Homo sapiens: one gene and its partners. The protein of the gene in region 1 interacts with the protein of each later gene in a biochemical or structural test. Each region holds a gene or a part of one and is shown in the gene's direction. Other genes may lie near its edges.

Evidence for each region.
Region 2: the proteins of NACC2 (region 1) and MTA3 form a complex in vitro, tested with the Homo sapiens proteins (one study listed by BioGRID).
Region 3: the proteins of NACC2 (region 1) and MTA1 form a complex in vitro, tested with the Homo sapiens proteins (one study listed by BioGRID).

The regions. Positions count from the first base shown.
Region 1 is NC_000009.12:136,007,980-136,015,362, reverse strand, and holds part of NACC2 (nucleus accumbens-associated protein 2), read left to right. Parts: intron 1-596; exon of another isoform or gene 597-850; intron 851-1,393; coding exon 1,394-1,499; intron 1,500-2,066; coding exon 2,067-2,164; intron 2,165-3,338; coding exon 3,339-3,847; 3' UTR 3,848-7,383.
Region 2 is NC_000002.12:42,564,364-42,571,646, forward strand, and holds the start of MTA3 (metastasis-associated protein MTA3), read left to right. Parts: upstream 1-4,268; 5' UTR 4,269-4,382; coding exon 4,383-4,410; intron 4,411-6,073; coding exon 6,074-6,141; intron 6,142-7,283. UniProt on the Homo sapiens protein: Acts as a component of the histone deacetylase NuRD complex which participates in the remodeling of chromatin.
Region 3 is NC_000014.9:105,422,464-105,429,846, forward strand, and holds part of MTA1 (metastasis-associated protein MTA1), read left to right. Parts: intron 1-7,383. UniProt on the Homo sapiens protein: Transcriptional coregulator which can act as both a transcriptional corepressor and coactivator. Acts as a component of the histone deacetylase NuRD complex which participates in the remodeling of chromatin.

The DNA.
Region 1 (7,383 bases):
AGCTCCCACCCTGCCCCGGCACTGCTTCTGGATGGCGAGCGCAGTGCTGGGCTGCCGGGGCGGCTGGGTGGGCCCCTGGGGTTGGGCTCTGGGGCGCAGGTGCCCACGCGGGCCCTGGTGCTTCACATAGGTGTGGTCCCAGGAAGATGCTCTCGGTCATCCCAGCCTCCAGCAGCTGTGGCCTCTGTTTGGGGTGTGGGGCTGATGGGATTGGAGACGTGCTTCAGTTTATGAGCTCCTCAGGAGAGTTCCTCCAGCCCAGACCCTGGCAGGAAGGGCCTGTGGGAGTGGTGGGGCAGGAGACGGGCCATGGCAGGAAGAGGTCATGGGCACTCACAGGCTCCTGGAAGCAGGCGCACCTGGACATCGTGTCCTTCAGGACATGACATCTCATGGTCATTGAGACTGGCTGCCCCCAGAAAGCATTCCCTCCCCATTGTTCCCAGAGGGTTCAGTCCTGCTGCTTGTCCATGCCCTCGCTCACCCAGACCCTGGTGGGACACCTGGGGTGTGGTCAAGTTTCCGAGGGTAAACAGCACAGCGTGGACCTCTCTGGCCACGCCTCTGCCCTAGCTGGTTTTCCTCTTCACACATACCCAGAGGAGGTCAGCACTGGGCCCTGCAAAGCTCCAGCCATACCCTCCAGCCAGGGGATTCCGTCTCCCTCATCGTTGCCTGAGGGCTCTCTGGTATCTGGGACGGAGCAGAAAGGCAAAGACATGAGTGTTTCCCAAACCCAGGGCCACAGCCAGCCCTTCAGAGTGTGTTCCCTAGGCCAGGTGCAGTGCCCCTCCTCCTGTAATCCCAGCACTTTGGGAGGCCGAAGTGGGAAGATTGCTTGAGGCCAGGTGTTCAAGACCAGTCTGGGCAACATAGGGAGACTTCATCAAAATTAACTGGGCATGGTGGTGGCGCCTGTGGTCCCGGCTACTCAGGGGGCTGAGGTGGGAGGATCACTGGAGCCCGGGAGGTCGAGGCTACAGTGAGCCATGATGGCACCACTGCTCTCCAGCCTGGGCAACAGAGCAAGACCCCGTCTCTAAACAACAACAAAGTGTGTTCTTGGGGAGGGAGCTGAGGCCGGGGACCGCAGCATGGCCGGGAGAGCTTGGAGTTTGGGGCTCGTTGGGGAGGGTGGGGGGCGCTGTGGCTTTCCCCACCCCCTGCTTAGTTCCATGTGTGATTTGGGACCTGCTGGGGCTGGCCTTGGCCATGGCCTCTCCTGGTGACCAGCAGGTGGGACCTCAAATTGCTCCTCCCCAAAAAAAGTCCTAGAAGCTTCCAGCTCCTCCTCCCCCTCCACCTCCCCCCCTCCCCCTCACCCATCTGTGCGCCTCTTCGGACCCTATGGCCCGGGAAGGCCACGAGCCCTTTTTCTGTTTGGTGGCTGCAGGCTCTGGGGTCTACATCACACGCGGCCAGCTGATGAACTGCCACCTGTGTGCAGGGGTGAAGCATAAGGTCTTGCTGCGGAGGCTCCTGGCCACCTTCTTTGACAGGTAGGTCGGGGCAGGAGTGCTGGAGGGCACAATGGAGCTGCGGAGGGTTCTGGCTCCTTTAGCTATGAGCTGTCTGATCGTCCAGGGTTGTGGCATTGAAAGCCCTCTCGCATTCCTGACTTCAGCCGTGGCCGGTCGGCCCCAGGACGGTGGAGAGGCTCCCAGGGAGGGAGGGAGGGGCTGTCTTTCGTGGCCTTTCTCAAACGGGCTTGTGGATGCAACCCCCACAACAGAAAAATGAAGAGCCACACTTATTCTGTTGTGCTGATGGGCCAACAGAACCCTTCCCGAGGACACAGCGGCTTCCTCAGACGTCCCCGGAGTCCCTGAGGACAAGGCTCAGGTCACCTTGCAGCCCCATCACCCGGTCATCTTCTCAGCCCAGACGCTTTTCCTTTGTCCTGTCCCTTAGAGGGTGGCTGGGCCGGCTCCTGCCACTGGGACACACGCAGACCAGCCAAGGGTGAGGCCAAGTGGCCTCCCAGCAGGGCATTCGTGCGGGCGGGTCGCCTCCAGGTACCCTCCCCATCATCCTCACCCTGCCTGCCTTTCCGGTCCCTCCACCAGGAACACGCTGGCCAACAGCTGCGGGACTGGCATCCGCTCGTCCACCAGCGACCCCAGCCGGAAGCCGCTGGACAGCCGGGTCCTGAACGCTGTGAAATGTAAGAGCCTGGGGGTCTCTCGGGTGGGTGGGGCCGGGGCTGGGTTCAGATCCCAGCCTGAGGAGGACTGGGTGGGCCGCGGGGGTGCTCCCGGCCACCTGCAGCTTCCGTCCCTGGGGGCCGAGCATGGTCTGATTGAGGGGAAGATGAGGAGAAAAGAGCAGCTCTCAGAAGCCAGGTCTCGAGGTGTTAACGTTCTTGGTAGGTTTCCAAGTGTGATGAATTCAGCTGCGAAACTATTTTAATATGTGAAATAGATCTAATTTTCCTTTTTGAACAAAACCCCTTATTTACATTTTGCGGTTATTTTGAGCCTTTGCCATCTGTTCGGCCGGCTTCTGCCTCCCGCTCTTGGGCGTGTGGGGGCGGAGCCCGGTCCATCTCCAGGGCAGACCGCCGCCCCCGGCCCGCGCCCCAGATGTGGAAGATGCTGACTGCTGCCGGCTCGCACCAGGTGGCCAAGAGCACAGCCTCCTGTGGCCCTCGGCCCAAGAAGCACTATCTTGTTTTCTTCCTAAAAAAAAGAAAAAAAAAAAAAAAAAAAAACCTTGTGAGGCAAATTCTGTTTTAGAGCAAAAAGGGGCCTTTGCAGCCAGGAATTACAGTCCCCAAGTGTGGGGTGGCAGCCGAGGCTCTGGGAAGATTCTGGGAGGGACCGAGGTGGACGTGGCCCCTGGGACCTGCCTCTGGGTTTGATGCCGTTGGGAGGAATGACCCGGCCTTGGCCTGGGCTCCTGCCAGAGAAAGGAGGCGAGTGTTGCTGAAGTGATGGCTTCTGTCACTCCCCTCCTCCAGGCTGGGACTGGGACGGGGAGGGGTGTGTTATTCCCGAAAGGGGGACCCTCTGACCAGTTCCCGTTAGCCGTTGGGGCTACGGAAGCCCGGAGAGATTAAAAACAGGCCTGAGCCTCACAGCTGGCGGACGGCCAAGGCTGCTGGGCCTGACCAGGCCAGAGACTGTTCCAGAGGAATGGGGTGGGGAGGCCTCCCAGGCCGAGCAGTGAGAAACGTGACCTCTGGTCTTCTGGCTGAGGCCAGGAGAGCCCCAGGTGGTCACATGGGCCCCAGGAGCGGCCGGGGAGGCTCATCCAGGGCATCATGGTTCTGTGGCCTTGGGGAGGGGCGGGCCTCCCGGCAGGCAGGTGGCTGAGCTCACGCCGCCCCGTCCTCACAGTGTACTGTCAGAACTTCGCCCCCAGCTTCAAGGAGAGCGAGATGAACGTGATCGCCGCGGACATGTGCACCAACGCCCGCCGCGTTCGCAAGCGCTGGCTGCCCAAGATCAAGTCCATGCTGCCGGAGGGCGTGGAGATGTACCGCACGGTCATGGGCTCCGCCGCCGCCAGCGTGCCCCTCGACCCCGAGTTCCCGCCTGCCGCGGCACAGGTGTTCGAGCAACGCATCTACGCCGAGCGGCGGGGCGACGCCGCCACCATCGTGGCTCTGAGAACTGACGCCGTGAATGTTGACCTGAGTGCCGCCGCCAACCCCGCCTTCGACGCCGGCGAGGAGGTGGACGGGGCTGGCTCGGTCATCCAGGAGGTGGCCGCCCCCGAGCCGCTGCCCGCCGATGGCCAGAGCCCCCCACAGCCCTTTGAGCAGGGCGGGGGCGGCCCCAGCAGGCCCCAGACGCCGGCGGCCGCGGCCCGGAGGCCGGAGGGCACCTATGCAGGGACCTTGTAAGCGGAGCTGGGTGGCTGCGCGAGGGACCGAGTACTAGAGCTGCTTGCATGCGTTACTAATACAAACAAATGTGATCAAGCCACTTACCTACTGAACTGCTACTGTTGCCTGAGAAAAATGTGATTTTTATTCTGCTTGTATTTAAAATTGATGAAGGAAACAAATGCATTCATTATACTGTAAACAATTAGGCCACTGGCAGCCTCCTGCGAGGAAGTTCCCAGGGCTCCCTTTTGATATTCACAAGGTCAGCCTCCAAGTGTAGCTTCCCTCCCCCTTCTTGGGGAGGGTGGGAGGCCGCCAGGCCCCTGGTGCCCAGCCCTGCCCCTTCCTCCCTGCCCTTCCTGCTCCTCCTGCCCGGAAGACGAAGCAGGGGCCGGCGGTGGTCTGTGGCGAGGGGGCTGGGCTGTGCGTCACTGACCCTTCCTTCCTTCCCCATGGAACCTCTCTGGGGCGACGGGGCAGGGCTCAGGCTCCAGGGCCTAACTCCTCGTTTTTCCTTCTTTCGGAGACTCGGGGCCAGGCCCACCGGGCCTTCCACCTGTGTGGGGTGTGTGCACGAGTGTGTGTGTGTGCGTGTGTGTGCAGGGGTGTGGTGAGGGGGCAGTGATGGCTGTGGCCCACCCCTCGGGGTGGAGAAAAGGGTACTTTACTCTGCCCCCACACCCTGTCCTTGTTCTGCCCGATCCGTCTCGGCTCTGCAGCCCCTCGGTCCCCTGACCCCCAGGGCACCGCTGACCCCGCCTGGCCTCCCACTGTCCCGCCCGGGCCCACTGTGGGACGTGCACAGCTGATGTAGCACACGCTGCCCTCTGCCGCCTCAGCCACTTTGGGATTATGCTTGTCTTGTTTTTTTTAGGTTTTGTTGTAATTTAGATCTATTTCATATATGGTTTGGAAACTTTCAGACTCAATAGAACAAAAACTTTGGGTGGGATGGGTGTCCCTGTCCCCAGCCCACCATGGCTTGGGGTGGGTCATCTGTGGCCGTTAGGGTGCGTCCCCCTGCTCCCCCGCCCAGGGCCAGGGACCACTCGTCTCCCACTGGGGGAAAAAGGGGGTCCCGGGTGGGCGACTAGTACGTGTGAAGCTGAGCTCAGGGCCGGACCTGGGGAGCGGGGGACTCCGCTCGGGCAGGAGGCAGCGGCCAGGGCTGGGCCAGGGCGAGAGTCGGTCCTCCCGGTGCTGGGCTCCCCGTCTGCCTTGAGGGGTGTGCATGGATGGAGGGTGCCTGAGGCTGCAGGCAGGGGATGACCGGGACAGGCCTGGGCTGGGGCAGTTGGAGGTATGGGCACTGGTAGGGGACAGAGGGTTAGGGATCATGTTGGGGGGCCAGGGACAGTGGAGGAAGGGCCCATGGAAGATGGGGCTGTTTGGTTTGAGGCTGGAGTGCTTCCTTTGAAATTTAATTACTGTTTTTTAAGTGGTAGGGCTCACAGACTGTGTGAAGTCCTGTGTGAAGTGCTGGTGTGGCCACCTACCCAGGTGTCCCTCCCTTTTGTTTTGGAGGCCTGTGTCCTTGTCCAGGGGCAGCCCTCCTTCCCAGGTGTGGCCAGAAGAACCCCCCATCCCAAGACTTGAAATGTCTGTTGCTCACCTCTGTCCCTCCAGAACTCGGCTTCCCCATCTTCACTTGCAAAACAAGTGCAGCCCTGCGCCCATCAGCACCCCCTCCGGTGTGCACACAGGCCAGTGAGCGGTGGCCGACCAGCGCACCCCACTCCCCCAACCTCCACAACCCATCAAGCGGAGGCCGCCTCCGCTAGGGGAGGACCATGTGCTGCACCCTGGCCTGGGGACCTACAGGGTGTGGGTTAGACGCATTCCCACTGGGCGGCTCCTTTCTGCCCCGAAGCCCACCCCTGTGGCGAGGCCCTAGGAGACCTCCCGTGGGGCCGCCTCTACAGACAGCACTCAGCCTCCTGGGCTGCCTCCAGCCAGGCCCAGCACATGCCTGCCCTCCAGAAAAATACGTTGCTTTCCAGAAGGAGGTGGGGGACCATGGGCAGGCACTGTGGACGCTAACCTCGGCCCCTCCACCCATTCCTCAGGGCCCACGTCCAGGGGGACCAAGACCTGCATTCCTAGGGCTGCAGGTGGCTCAGTGGTGCAGAGGCATCCAGACCTTCTGCTGAACTAAGAACCACCCAGCCTAGAGGGAGCCTTTCTCTGCCTCTTCCTCCCCTGTCTTGGGCACAGGTGGGGTTGGAGCCCCCATGGGGCCCGCTGGGAACCTGGACCAAGCCTTCCTCGGAGATGGGAGGAAGCCGCGGGGTGGAGCAGGGGCAGGTAGGTGAGGTTGAGCTGCACTTGAGTTCCCTCTGGAGTTTCCTTCATCTGCCCCACACCCAAATTTGCACTTTAATTTGACCATCCCTGGGGGCCTGGCTGCTGACAGAAGGGCTCTCTCTGCCCTCCACTCCAAAGTGGGTGCCCCCCCACCCTTGGCCAGGACAGGGAGGGAGCCGCTGGCTGCTGCCGGAGGTGGTGGCTGCACAGAGGACGCCTGACTGCTGTTCAGGCCCGCACAATGTCCCGTGCCCCTTCCTCACTCGTTTGTAATCGCCGTCTGTTTTGTTCTGGGTAAGGAAGGCAAGAGCTATAGATAAAACTTAAATAATAATAATTTAATGTGAATGGGTTCTGAGCTCTCCCTGCGCCCCGGGCGGGCCAGGCCGAGCATTTTGCACTAATGTGTCCCACGGTGGGCGTGAGTCGGGAGTGTCTGTGGACGTGCGTGGCTGCTGAGCGGACCTGCTGTGTGCTCCCTCCACGTCCTGAATGTACCGTGGGGCGGGGGCGGCGGCCCGGGCTCAGAGGGGCCTTCCAGAGTGCCTTAGCATCCTTTGATCATTTTTCCCAAGGAAACCAATTAAGAAAGCCGGACCCTTCCCTCCTTTGTTTACAAGATGACTAATTCTAGAATCCGGGGTTGTCCTGTCCTGTGAGTGTGACCCTGACTCATCCAGACCCTGTAGAGAGAGACGAGCCACTCAGTATTTATGAGATGTCTGCACCTTTATCCCTAAGCCTGACTATTAGCAATACGCATATCCTATATAGAATCTATTACAGAGCTACGTTATCTCCACACCTTTTGAGGAGGACAGAAGGGACTGGACCGTGTTGGAGCTGCCGCCTGGCAGGTGGTGGGCCTGGGATCTAGCCGCCTCTCCTGCCCTGCCTTCCTCTTCCCCAAGGGGATGGGCCCAGGAGGCAGCTGGGTTGCATGGAGAGGTCCAGGAGGGACCGGAGGTGTGACAGATACTGTGAGCCCGGCGGGCCGCGCCTGGCTGGGTGCCTCGGTACTTGAATTCTGTCTTGTTTTCCGCATTGTGTCTGTCCACCCGAGTTCTCTGTCGTCACTTAACTTTGCATTGGATTTGGTTGTTGTACTTTGCCCCTGAATGTGGACAAAGCTGTGGGCAAGAGGTCAGCAGGACCCGCCTGGGGGTGCCGGCGTTGGTGACTGCGGGTCGGGGCTCCTAGAACATAGGAGCCGGCTGCCTGGCCTCCTTTCTCCTCCAGGAAGAGTC
Region 2 (7,283 bases), on another chromosome or scaffold:
TAGGGATTTCATGTTTTTTGCACAGGAGATCTATGGAAGAACCATCTCTATGACTAGAGAAGCTACAGAACTCCCAATTCTGTTTCCTTTCTCCTTGGGGCTCTTCTGCTTTGATTCTTGCCATCATATGCCTACACTTCTCTTGGGTTATGTTCCTCTGCCTTTAAAACCCAGGCCCTCCTTAGAATATGAGACAGACTGGCCTTTTCTGAAAGAATTTTACTAAATAAGAGAAGAAGTTAATGAAAGGAAAAAGAAGAGAGAAATAAATCATGGAAAACACGAACCAACAAGATAAAGTCCCTTTTCCAAAGCCTGGCCTCTGGTTTCAGATTAATTACATTTTAGACCTCCAGGCTCCTGTCCTGGGTTCAGTATGACAGAACTCCCAGACTGTGGCCAGCACCAATCTCTTTTAATTTATTTTTTTTGAGATGAAGTCTCGTTCTGTTGCCCAGACTGGAACACAGTGGTGTGATCTTGGCTCACTGCAATCTCTGCCTCCTGGGTTCAAGCGATTCTTCTGCCTCAGCCTCCTGAGTAGCTGGGACTACAGGCGCTTGCCACCATGCCCGGCTAATTTTTTGTATTTTTAGTAGAGATGGGTTTTCACCATATTGACCAGGCTGGTCTCGAACTCCTGACCTCATGATCCGCCGGCCTCGGCCTCCCAAAGTGCTGGGATTACAGGTGTGAGCCACCGCGCTCAGCCAACCGGCACCAATCTCTTTTTATTTTTTCGCACATATAAAAACTCCATCCCTACGTTGAGACAAAAACCAACTCTCCATTTTACCTATTCACCTAAAGCTTTCTTTTTTTTCTTTTGTTTATTTATTTTGAGACAGAGTCTTGCTCTATTACCCAGGCTAGAGTGCAGGGGCATAAACATGGCTCACAGCCTCTACCTCCTGGGCTCAAGCGATTTGCCTGCCTCAGTCTCTTCCAGAGTAGCCAGGACCATAGGTGCGCACCAACTGGCTAACTTTTTTTTTTTTTTTTTGGTAGAGGTGGGGTCTTGCCATGTTGCCTAGGCTCAAATGATCCTCCTGCCTTGGCCTCCCAAAATGCTGGGATTACAGGCGTGAGCCACCATGCCTAGCCACCTATAGCTTTCTTGCTGCATCCACTTCTCTTCAACTAAATGGTAAAGAACTACCTTGTATGTGGTTCTTTAATTGCAACAACTGTGCAAGGAAATTTCATCCATGGAAGGGCTGGATTTGCCCTGGGATTTCTGGCATGGCCTGAGAGACACTTCTTCCTTAGTGATGAGAATAACTGGAATAGAGAGAAGGGACCTAACGCATATGAAGCGCCCAACAAGTGCCAAACACCTTCTATATTTAAATTTTACCAGGCTGGGCATGGTGGCTCATGCCTGTAATCCCAGCATTTTGGGAGGCTGGGCAGGCAGATCACTTGAGGTCAGGAGTTCCAGACCAGTGTGGCCAACATGGTGAAACCCTGTCTCTACTAAAAATACAAAAATTAGCCAGACGTGGTGATGGGCACCTGTAGTCCCAGCTGCTTGGGAGGCTGAGGCAGGAGAATTGCTTGAGCCTCGGAGGTGGAGCTTGCAGTGAGCCGAATCCGAATCGTGCCATTGCACTCCAGCCTGGGCAGCGAGAGCGAAACTCCGTCTCAAAAAAAATTTTTTTTTCTACCATAAGCCTTTGAGGTAGGTATCAACCAGTAGTCATATTTTGTAACCCCTCTTGAGGCTCAGAGGGGTTAAGTAACTTGCTCAAGGTCTTTATAGTTAAACTGCCAAACTAGGAGTGAAGTTAGGGCTGGTTGATGACAAGTTTGTGGTCTAAACCATGTAGCTAAGAAGGGAGAGGCGCCTTTGCTTTTTTAAAGGTGCAGGCTTTCCACCCGTCTTTGGTTGAAAGGTTTCTTTCAATCTACAAACATTTGCTGAACTCCTTTATGTGTGAACCTCTCTGGAATTAGGACATATAAAAGTTTCACAAAGTCCTTGTATTCAGCTCTTCTGATTCTTTGAGTCCACGATTTGTTGGTATTTATTCTTCAGATACTGAGCATCTACTGTGTCAGCTCAGAAATGTAGAGGACATTGGCCTAGGAGCTGGACATGGAAGAGACTAATATATAGAATCTAGAGCAAAAAACGGTTCTAAGGCCTGCCACCATCATTACCTCCTGCTAGTCCCCTTCAAGTCTTTGAGGCCTTTCATGGGGGGCTTCTGGATGAGGCTGTTCCTAAGGGGACATAGGGAGGAGTTTTCTCGGCATCTTTCACCATTTATTGTGGTTAGCACAGTCATCATAAACACCTGGCAAGAGCACTAAGCTTGGGAAATGAGACAGGCACACAATGAATTAACAAAAACAGGGAAAGATTTCGAAGGAGGAGAAATTGCTTATGAAAAATTAATGGGAAAACATCCTAAAGCTTGTGATCCACTTCTTTGCACTTTATGGTTTCTAGGTGGCTTTTGTACTTGGAGAAACACTGTGGTTCAGAACATTCTAGGCCAGAGGAAAGGGCTGATTCATAATCCCAAAATTGCTGCCAGTTTACTGTGTGATTCCAGGTGAATTATTCAACCCTATTTATGTGTCAGCTCAGAAATGGAGTGATGTCAGTTTTGTCAGAATGTTTTTGGTGGGATCTCTGGTAAATGTTGAATGACAGCTATGCAATGTGTGGAACAGAACACTTTTGCTTTCTTCTTTGGGTCAGAATTTGACACATGGCTCAGAATTTGACACACAGCAGAGAACCCTTGGGAATCTGTGGTTTTCTGGGGTTAAAAAGAAAGCAAGAGACACCTGTTATTTGCATGGTGCTCTGTGTTCCCTGGTTTACAAAGCATTTTCAGATATCATCGCAACTGATCCTTACCACACCTGTGAAGGGGGAACTCACGTCCCCATTTTATAGACGAGGAAACAGGTCATAGAGTCAATGTAATTCAATAGTGCTTTATTTTTTATTTTTATATTTTGCCTCAGCTATGCACAGTTTTTTCATCTCAATACTTTGTGATAAGTGACCATCACAAATGTCATCACCAAACCACCAAAACACAACCTTCTTTTCTGGGGGCACCTCTTAGCCCCGCACAGACCTTAAACCCAGAGTCGACAGCACACAGCTGTGTATCACCACACATTCCAAACAAGCCACCACACCAAGAAATCTTCTTCGTGTTTATTATGCAGCAATGTCTGGGAGTACTTTGGAATGGACTGGCTTCTCTAAAGAAAGTTATTTGTGTTCATTTGGGGGATCGCCAGCTAAGATTCAACGTTGTTTTTTTTTTTTTGTATCTGTGAGAGTAGGAAGGCCGTGAAAACAGAGGTTGTTTAGAGAATTGGCCTGGGACAATAACCATTTAGAAGCTTTAGGCACGTAACCAGTTAAGTGTCCATCGACATGAAACTGATTGAATACAATCTCCTCTGTTTGGGGGTGGTGGTGATTGTGAACTGTAGGGCCCTGTTCCCCCATGGACAAAGGAAGCCCCTCACTCCTAAAGGTCCCTTTTCCCAGCAGAACAGGCCCTGCATATACAGTGCCCGTCTAGAGCCAGGGCCTCCATCTGGGTGTTGGACAGTTGGTTCTGCTCAGCCCAGTTTTGGGGTAAACGATGACGCAGTTAGGGTGGCCTAGGAAGGGAGTTTTTCTACCTCTGTCCCCAGCTGGGTCTCTGGCGAGGCGGGAAGCACCCGGAATCTTCCTGGCCCTAGAGCCTGCAGGCTCCAGGCCGGCCCCTTGAATCTCACCGCGAGGAAGGCACCCTGCTGCCTGCACTTATTTGCATCCAAGAGTTTGCATTGAGACTGGCGCTTGCCTACTAGGGCAGCCACAGGGGGGTTCCCCAGGGACAGAGGTAGGGAAGGAGGACCTGTCTTGGGGTGGACAGGTGACGGGGTACCCTGGGTGGGGGAAGAGGTGCTGGGGAGAGGCTAAGCCCCAGCCCCCACTCTAATTCTCTAACAGCCCCTGGTCCGCATTTGAGTGCAGGCCTCTGCCTCAGCCAGGACCCTGACCCCAGGGCCCTCCACTTCCAGCAAGGCCCCCCACCCTCCCTCCCACTCCCACTCCCTTTCCCCTCCCCCTCCCCCCCAATTCCCGCTGGCCCCGCAGCGCTCCAGCCTCCCCGGGCCTCCCCCGGCCCGGCCCACTCGGCCTTGCTAGCCTGGCGCTGGGGGCGGGCACCAGCCCCCACCCCTCGGCGTACCATCCCCTTTACTTCCCCCACCCCCTGTCCCCTCCCTTCCCTCCCTTCCCCCCCGTGGCGAGGCAGCAGCGACGGCGGCGGCGGCAGCGGCGGTCGCGGCTGAGGCTGAGGAGGAGGCGGCGGCGGCGGGCGGGGCTCGGCTCGGGCTCCGCGGGCGGGCGGGCGGACATGGCGGCCAACATGTACCGGGTCGGAGGTAGGCAGGCTCGGCCCGACCCGGCCCGTGTGGGAGCGGGTTCCGGGAGCGGGGGGCCGGGGCGAGTGCACGCCAACTGCCGGGAGCCAAGGGCGCCGGGGCTGAGGTCGCAGTGGGCTGGGGCGCCGGGGCCCGCAGAGGGGCCGGGACTCCCCACCCCCACCCATCCCTTCCCCTCCCCCCACGCGGGCTCGCGAGGGCCCGGGGCCACCTTCACCCTCGCACCCCGCCCAGTGTTTAGGGCCAGGCCTCTACTTGGGGGTACGAATTACCAGACACCCCCCTCCACGAAACCCTCATCGGGGTAGGGCCCGTCGAGCCCCCTGAGAAGGTGGCCTTCTTGCGTGGCTTCTAGGCGCTGGAGAGGATGAGGGGACATCCCCTCTCCTGCTTCTTCCCCACTCAGTGGGAGCCTGGGGTGGGGGTGGGGGTGGGGGCGGTGGGGGCCCAGCCAGGGGCCCAGCTGGACGGGCCTGTTTGCGTGCCGGGGCCCTGCACCTCCCCTTCCTCGGCCCCCCTCCTTTTCGTTTCTGGTCCAGTCCCCCACGAATGGGGCTTCGTGGGAGCTGGGAACCTCAGCCGGAGGTGGGGAGTTGAGCTCTGCCTGGACGTTTGCTCTGCTGCCTGCCTCCTTCCCAGTCTTCTGCGGAAGAGAGAAATAAGGTCAAACAAACTTTCTCCCTACTCACGACGCCCTCCTCCCTCTTTCCTGGTAAAATAATAATTCAGATAAGTGGCGTGTTTGTATGAGAGACTGGCTCTTCCTTCTCTGCTCATTAGCCGAGCTTCTGATGGATGGTGGTGGGAATGGCCTGGCTAAATGAGGCCACTTTGCAGAAGAGAGCGGCGAAAGAGCCACTAAGATAGACAATAACAATGCAGCTGCCTTTCGGATAAACACACAGTGGGAAGTTTCCAGCAAGCCTATTAGATGAGAGGAAAAGCCACACTTGAAAAATTTTATCCTTTTAGTTGAAAGCCTGCAGCAATTTCTTAATCACAAGACATTAAATGGATCTGGATTAAATATGGTAAAAGGGTAAAAAAGATGCTGATATCACCCCCAGAACACTTTGCCTCTTAGAAGTGATCCCCCGGCCCCCTTTTTTCCTCATCTTCCCAGGTAAAACTGTGGAAAAGTTTGTCAGCGTTCTTCCTCTTAACCTGTTCTGCTCATCTGATTTTTTTTTTTTTTTTTAAGTAGTGATTGAAATGTAGGTTGGACTGTGAAGCCTTTCTCCCTGCTCTGAATGTGTCTTAGGTCAATAGTTTTATGTGAGAAGCAGCCTGCAGGGCAAATTGTATTGGAGGAAAAAGATGTGGAAGTAGTTATAGTACAGAGGACACATGTTTAGCGTGCCCTGACTACACAGTGATAAGAGGTGTCTTTTTTGTTTATTATTAAAGAAATGACGTATTGGGACAGAAGTCTAGGAGAAACTGATAAAACATTAATTGAAATGAAAATGCCAAGAAAATAAAGGTCTGTGAATAGTAGGCACGTGAGAGGATATATTAAGGCTGCATTATTATGTTTGCTTTTACCAGTGAATGAATTATGAGCTTAATTTCAAACGTGAAATGCCTAACATAAAAAGTCTTGGATTGACAAATCTGAACTTTCTGTTAAAAAGATTAAGTTCTGTACTTCCTTTAATTACAGATTATGTCTACTTTGAGAATTCCTCCAGCAACCCATACCTAATAAGAAGGATAGAAGAACTCAACAAGGTATACACTGAGTGTTCTTAATTTTAATATTAAAAATATTTATTTTCCCTTGATGGGTAATTGGGTAAAGGGTGGCCTGGTGTGGGGGCTCATGCCTGCAATCCCAGTAAATTGGGAGGCCTGGCGAGTGGATAGCTTGAGCCCAGGAGTTGGAGACCAGCCTGTGCAACATAGTGAGACCCTATCTCTTATTTTTTTTTAATTAATATAAAAAGTAAAAATATGGCTGGGTGCGGTGGCTCATGCCTGTAATCTCAGCACTCTGGGAGGCTGAGGCGGGCGGATCACCTGAGGTCGGGAGTTCGAGACCAGCCTGACCAACATGGAGAAACCCCGTCTGTACTAAAAATACAAAAAAAATAGTCGGGCATGGTGGCACATGCCTGTAATCCCAGCTACTCGAGAGGCTGAGGAAGGAGAATCGCTTGAACCCGGGAGGCGGAGGTTGCGGTGAGCCAAGATTGTGCAATTGCACCCTAGCCTGGGCAATGAGATAAACTCCGTCTCAAAAAAAAATAAAAATAAAAAAATAAAAATAAGCTGGGTAAAGGGGCATAAGAGATGATTTTACTTTCAGTCCCAGACTCTTTGAAAGATGAGATTTTAGGCTGGGCATGGCGGCTCACCCCTGTAATCCCAGCAATTTGGGAGGCCAAGGAGGGGGTGGATCACTTGAGGTCAGGAGTTCAAGACCAGCCTGGCCAACATGGTGAAACCCTGTTTCTACTAAAAAAGTACAAAAAAATTAGCTAGGCATGGTGGCATGCACCTGTAATCCCAGCTACTCAGGAGGCTGAGGCAGGAGAATCCAGGTGGAGGTTGCAGTGAGCTGAGATCACGCCATTGCACTCTAGCCTGGGTGACAGAGCAAAACACTGTCTCAAAAAAAAAAAAAAAAAAAAAAAAGTTGAGATTTTAGAGAGTTATGCACGATTCTGAATTCCGAATATTCTTTTGCTTTTTTGTTACTGAATATTTAAAAGTGTGCAGATATTTTCAAATTGCTTAGAGCCTCTGAAAGAGCAGTTCACTTATGTAACTCAGACCCTTTTTATGTTTAGAGTCATAATGTGTATTTTTCCCTTTTTAGTGAATTAATATTTTCCTCTTCCAGGTTTAGAAGGAGGAAGCTAGGGAACATA
Region 3 (7,383 bases), on another chromosome or scaffold:
GAGATGCCGGCAGGGACCCAGCCTGGGAAGGGGCTTGCTCCTGTGCCCCCCCACCCCAGGGACCTTGTGTGTAGAGGCACCAAATTTAGTTAAGAAAAGTACAGGACGCCCAGGCAAATTTGAGTTTCAGATAAACAGAAATTTATTAGTGTAAGTATGTCCCAAATATGGCATGGGACATACTTGTCCCAGAAGATTCTTATCTGACATTCACAGTTATCTGGGCAACCCGTATTTTAGCTGGCAGGCTACTCCGAGGCCCTGCCAGGTTGGGCTAGGCAGGGTGAAGGTGTGGTGGCAGTATTTTTGTGCCAGCTGAGCTGGGTGAAGTGGTGAGCAGGGAGGGAACAGGGCCTGTTTCTTCCCCATGGAGTGCCCTGGCCACGGACAGAGGCCTTCTGTCTGTGCCTGTGAGGGCAGCGGATGGCCTGGGCAAGGGTGGCGGGGTCAGGGTTCCCTGACCTCTGCTTCTCAAGGGTTGTCCATCCCGAGGGCTGGGGAAGGCTTGAAACCTGCTGTGGGATGAGAGGGCCCCAGGGCAACGGCGGGATGTTTCTTCTCTGGGTTGAACATGAAGATGTTAGATAGCATCCAAAACAGGACAGCAGGAATCGGTGCCTGCCAGCCGCCTGCAGCTTGCTCATGTGGGGCTTCTGCTTTTCAGTGGACAGGCCATTACCATTTTGCCTTGGGTGTTTCTGTTTTTCATTGCAAGAGGTTAACACCCCATCTTTTGGATTTTTTTTGTTTAATTTTTTTTTTTTTTTTTTTTTTGAGATGGAGTCTTGCTCTGTGGCCCAAGCTGGAGTGCAGAGGCGCGATTTCGGCTCACTGCAACCTCCGCCTCCCCGGCCCAAGCGATTTCCTGCCTCAGCCTCCCAAGTAGCTGGGACTAGCCAGGCGCCACCAGGCCTGGTTAAGTTTTACATTTTTAGTAGAGACGGCGTTTCTCCATGTTGGTCAGGCTGGTCTGGAACTCCTGACCTCAAGTGATCCACCCGCTTCGGCCTCCGAAAGTGCTGGGATTACAGGCGTGAGCTCATGCCCGGCCTTTTTGTTTTAATTTTAATAAAAGTTGAGGCTGGGTGACAGAGTGAGACTCCGTATCAAAAAAAAAAAATTTTAATGTAGTTTGAAAGGATGCCAGAAAGCCCCTGCCCCTGCAGGGCCGCGGGCTCTGCCCCGGTCTCTGGCGCAGCCTGGGCGGAAGCACCCTGTCCGTGCTGCTGGTCTTCACTGGGCTTGGCATGTGCCATCATCTGCGCTCTGGCGCGCTGTTAGAAATGTTGCTTTTGTATTTTTATTCTAGTGTTTTTTTGAAGTTTAAACTTTATTGCTCTATATACTTGCCAGTGGGGAAAAAAGTAAACTTAAAAAAAATGTCAGATTTGTAGAGGGCTGCAGCCAGCGCCGCCCTACCCTGGAGTGCTGAGTGCACCGTGTCCCTAGGCACTTGCTGCTCCATGGGCCGACTTTTGGGGTCCCACCCATCTTTTCCAAGAAGGCAGGGAAGAGCCCTGGAGACACGGCCGTCCTGTGAGCACCAGGAGCGGGAGTGGTAGAAGTGGCAGGGGCCCAGGTGTGATGTCCTGGAGGGGATGGCATGGGGCTGTCCCACTTGGCCTGTGAGGATCGGCCTCAGCACTGCGCCATTGGCAGCCCTGGCTCACTCTCCAGGCAGGATGGGCCACTGAGCTTCTCCTGCCTCAGCCACTGAGCACTCCTGGCTTGCTCCACCTTTGTTTTTTTGAGACGGAGTCTCGCTCTGTCCCCCAGGCTGGAGTGCAGTAGCGCAATCTGGGCTCACTGCAAGTCCGCCTCCCGGGTTCACACCATTCTCCTGCCTCAGCCTCCCAAGTAGCTGGGACTACAGGCGCCCGCCACCATGCCTGGCTAATGTTTTGTAATTTTTTTTTTTTTGTAGAGACGGGGTTTCACTGTGTTAGCCAGTATGGTCTCGATCTCCTGACCTTGTGACCCACCCGCCTCAGCCTCTCAAAGTATTGGGATTACAGGCGTGAGCCACTGCGTCTGGCTTTTTTTTTTGTTTTTGAGACAGTCTCACTCTGTCACCCAGGCTGGAGTGCAGTGGCACAATCGCGGCTCACTGCAACCTCCGCCTCCTGGGTTCTAGTGATTTGCCTGCCTCAGCCCCCTGAGTAGCTGGGATTACAGGTGTGCACCACCACACCTGGCTAGTTTTTGTGTTTTTAGTAGAGACAGGGTTTCACCATCTAGGCCAGGCTGGTCTCGAACTCCTGACCTCAAGTGATCCACCCGCCTCGGCCTCCCAAAGTGCTGGGATTACAGGCGTGAGCCACGGTGCCTGGCCCCATATTGTTCTGAGTGGAGAATTTGATCGTTAAGCTCTCAGAATAATAAAAAAGTAGCTGTCAGTGAGAGATGTTGGAATATATGGTCCAATGAAGCACATCCCTCGCGCCCGACCCGCCCTGGCAGTGCCGTTCCCGCCCGTGTGTGTGGGTTCTGGGTGTCAAAACTGCTGCAGTGGCCCTGCAGGCATCCTACCTAGAGGTGGGTCCCCAGCTGCGCATCTGGACGCTGGTCAGCAGGTGAGGCTGGGATGCCAGAGGAGGTGCCGTGTGCCTGGCCAGGTACCCGGGAGGCGGCTTGGGGGAGCACTGGCTGCAGGGCCTCCTTCCTCCTCCTGCTGAACTTGGAGTGCTCTTGCCAGATTATGGGCTGAGTCCTGCTAGGGAGGGTGGCCCCCCTTCCCCAGGAGGAGCCCACCCTGAGACCTGGTTGGGGGGCAGCTTAGACCCTACCTTAGACTCCAGCAGGCTGTCTTGGGAGCATGTAATTATGTTTTTTTTGAGACAGGGTCTCCTGTTGCCCAGGCTGGAGTGCAGTGGCACCATCACAGCTACTGCAGCCTCCACCCCACAGGCTCAGGCGATCCTCCCATCTCAGCTTCCTGAGTAGCTGAGACCACAGGTGCACACCACCATACCCAGCTAATTTTAAGATTTTTTATAGAGGCGGAGTCTCACTATGTTGCCCAGGCTGGTCTCGAACTCCCGTCCTCAAGCGATCCTCTTGCCTTGGGCTCCCAAAGTGCCGCTGGGTTTGCAAGGCTGTGAACTACCATGCCCGGCAGAGCATTTAATATTCTCCAAATGTCTTTCCTCGTGTGCTACCTGGGCTCACTGCTTTCTGGGGCTCTCGTGTTGCTGGTGTCTCCACCCCCACCCCCACCCCAGCTGGCCTGCTCCATTCCTGTCCCGGTGGGCTCATGTCTGAGTGTGCGGACTGGGGGATCTTGGTGGCGATGGAGCCAAGCCCAGGGAGGCTGGGGCCACCCTCATAGTGCAAGGCCACCCAGCACCTCGCCCCTATACCCCACCCGCCCCACCAATGTGCCCCCGGCACCCCCGAGCCCAGGCCCCAAGGCTTGCTTCTATGGGCTTTGCACCACCCTCTAGGCTGCTCCCGCCTGGGCCATGCAGCGCACCTGAGGGGTCTGAGGTGACCGCTCCTCAGAGCCGCCCGGCAGCCTCCCTGGGGCGGGCCTCAGCACTGCAGCCCCGTGATCCGGCCTGGCGTGGGCTTTGCTGCTTTCTCTGCCCGGTGGCCTGAGGAGCTCGAGTGCCCGCCTGCCCCCAGAGCCCTTTCACGGTCAGGGCCTGAGCTCTGTGGGTGCCATTAGGAGGAGGGTCTGCAGATCTGTGCGGTTGGGGGACCCCTGGGGCATGGAGGGGACCACGCGTCCCTTCCCGTCCGTGCCCTGCCAGGCTGTCCTCACAGCAGCGTCGTCACAGGGGAGGAAACCAGGGCAGCGGCAGCGGCTCCTGGTACCAAGCATACCTTAAAAATGAGCCCATGGATGTTGCAGTGAGCCGAGATCACGCCACTGCACTCCAGCCTGGGTGACAGAGCGAGACTTCGTCTCACAAAAAAAAAAAAAAAAAAAAAGAGCCTCAAGGCCTGTGCAGTTGGTCAGCGGTGGAGTCAGGTATGGGGCACACCTGATTCTGCCCTGGCTCATCCCCTGCCTTCAGAGGACAGCAAGGGCGCAGCGCACGTGGGGGCTGGCCCTGAGGTGTGGCGTTCTCTGGGCTGGGCTAGGGCAGTTCTGAGGGAGGGGCGTGTTCTGTCCCATTCCTCCAGGAGACACAGTGCCTGGGCCATCTGGCCACTTGCATGAGGGAACGTCTGTCTGCATCCCCTGGGGGCCGCTGTCCCCATCCCTTGACTGCCGGATGCACCTCGGATGCTGGGGCTCTGGTCTCCGATCCTTCTTGGACTTTGTGGGGACAGCAACGGAGGAGGATGACCCCAAGGATGGGCCGGGCGCGAGGCTTGCAGCAGTGCCCAGGTTTTGCAGATAAAAATACAGGACACCCCTGCAGCATTTGGGACGTTGTCACATGGAGACCCGGCTCCTGGAGCAGGGGTGCTGGGGGCTTTCCTGACCACTGTTGCTGTTTCTCTTGACTCTGTTCCCAAAAGGGAAAAGACAAAGTTCCTCTCTGTGCTCCCTGGTCTCCTGTCTCTGACCATGGCAGACCTGGCTGTGGGTGAGCTCAGGAGAGTGGGCTGTGCCCTGGAGGGTCCCGGACAGGCAGGGACCACGGGCACCGCCCTGCCGCACAGCTCTTGTTGCTCAATGATCTTGGGGGTTGTGTCTGTTCTCCCCCAATTCTTCTGTGGCCCCATCCCCTATTTGTTAAAACTTACGTGTAACCCCAAAATTCACACTTATGTCACTTTCCCAGTCATTTGCGGGCACGCACAGGCTGCTAAAAGCCCAAGTTGCGTGGTGCTTGGGTGCCTGCTGGGGTGAGCGAGGCACCCTGCCCTCTGCCACTGCTCCCATGTTGGAAGCAAATTGTCCTTTCTCCATCTACTGAGGGCCATGCTTCTTGCATTTGGGGGCTCTTGGTGATTTTGCTTTTTAGATGCCCCTGGGGGAGGTGCCGCAGTGCTGTTGAGTGTCCCTGGACACAGGCAGGCTGGGATGGGTCCCATGGAGAGAACGTGTGTTGGACAGGCTCTGCCCCACGTGAGTTCAGTGTCGGAGAACAATAATAATTATAAAGTTCTTTGACAGAAACGTAAAATAAGGCTGTTGCGTATTGATTGGTTGCTGAAAATGTTGTGACCAGAGGCTCGTAGGAACCTGACCCTGTATTTCCTGTAGGAACAGAGGTACGGTGTTCAGTATTAGTGGTGACTTTATGGAACGTAATTACTGCAAACAATGAGAATTGACTCTGGGTGCGTGTATATTTTTTTAACTTAAAGTAAGGTTTAGGCCGGGCATGGTGGCTCACACCTGTAATCCCAACACTTTGGGAGGCTGAGGTGGGCAGATCACTTGAGCTCAGGAGTTTGAGACCAACCTGACCACACAGCAAAACCCCATCTCTACTAAAAATACAAAAAAAGCCAGGCGTGGTGGTGCGTGCCTGTAATCCTAGCTACTTGGGAGGCCGAGGCATGAGAATCACTTGCGTGCAGGACGCAGAGGTTGCAGTGAGTGGAGATCGCACCACTGTACCCCAGCCTGGGCAACAGAGTGAGACTCTCTCAAAAAAAAAAAAAAAAAAAGTTAGGTTTATTGAGATACACGTTTCACATGGCAAACCCACTTATGTGTAGGGGCCTGTGGTTTTCCACTCATGCACAGCTGTGTGGTCGCTGCAGCTCTTCCACACCTGACATGCTTCTCTTGTGACCTTCTGTAGTCAGCCCCCTCTTCTCCCCCAGCTCCCAGCAACACTGACCTATTTTCTGTTCCTGCCGTTTTGCCTTGTCCAGAATGTGGTAGAAGTGGAATTGCACAGCATGTGGGCTTTTGAGTCTGGCGTCTTTCTTTTTTTTTGAGATAAGGTCTCAGTCTGTCACCCAGGTTGGAGTGCAGTGGTACAGCCATGACTCACTGCAGCCTCCACCTCCCAGGCTCAAGTGATCCTTCCACCTCAGCCTCCTGAACAGCCGGGACCACAGGTGTGCACCACCACACCCAGCTAAGTTTTTCGTTATGTTGTCTAGGCTGGTCTCGAACTCCTGGGCTCAAGCGATCCTCCCACTTCGGACTCCCATAGTGCTGAGGTAACAGGAGTGAGCCACCATGCCCAGCCTTATAGTAATTCTTGAAATCAAGTAGTAGGAATCCTTGAACTTTGTTCCTCATTTTCAAAATTGTTTAGCCTGTTCTGGTTACTTGGCTTTCCCTTACAGAGTTTAGAATTGGCTTGTTAATTTCTACAGAAACCAAAAAGAAGTGTTTCTTTTTTTTTTTTCTTTTTTTGAGACAACATCTTGCTCTGTTGCCCAGGCTGGAGTGCAGTGGTATGATCTTGGCTCACTGTATGTAGCCTCAGTCTCTTGGGCTCAAGTGATCCTCCCCACTTCAGCCTCCCGAGTAGCTAGGACTACAGGCATACGCCACCATGCCTGGCTAGTTTTATTTATTTTTGTAGAGATGGGGTCTCACTATGTTGCCCACACTAGTCTCAAACCCCTGGCCTCAAGTGATCCTCCTGCCTTGACTCCCAAAATGCTGGGATTACAGGCATGAGCCATTGTGCCCAGCCTCACCTTGCACTTTTATGTGGTAGAAATGGCTTCTTTCCTTGAACTTCATGGGCCAACTTCTGCTAGCTTCAGATTTTTCTTCTGCAGCCTCCTCACCTCCCTCAGCCTTCGTAGAACTGAAGGGAGTTAGGGCCTCGCTCAGGCTGGGGCTCTGGCTTCGGGGAATGTGTCCGCTTTGATTTCCCATCCCGGCACTTCAGCTTTCTCTCTATCAGTACTAAGGCCGTTCAGCTGTCTTATCAGGCTTGTGTTCACTGGAGCAGCACTTTTTGTTTTTTGGAGATGAAGTCTTGCTCTGTCGCCCAGGCTGGAGTGCGGTGGCACGATCTCGGCTCGCTGCAACCTCCGCCTCCCGGGTTCAAGCGATTCTCCTGCCTCAGCCTCCCAAGTGGCTGGGACTACAGGCACCCACCACCACACCCGGCTAATTTTTTTTTTTTTTTTTGAGACAGAGTCTCCCTCTGTCACCCAGGCTGGAGTGCAGTGGCACGATCTCGGCTCACTGCAAGCTCCGCCTCCCAGGTTCACGCCATTCTCTTGCCTCAGCCTCCCGAGTAGCTGGGACTACAGGTGCCCGCCACTATGCCCGGCTAATTTTTTGTATTTTTTTAGTAGAGACGGGGTTTCACCATGTTAGCCAGGATGGCCTCAATCTCCTGACCTTGTGATCCACCTGCCTCAGCCTCCCGAAGTGCTGGGATTACAGACGTGAGCCACTGCGCCCGGCCTTTTTTTTTTTTTTTTTTTTTGGTGACCAAGTCTCGCTCTGTCATTCAGGCTGGAGTGCAGTGGTGCGATCTTGGCTCACTGCCACCTCCAGCT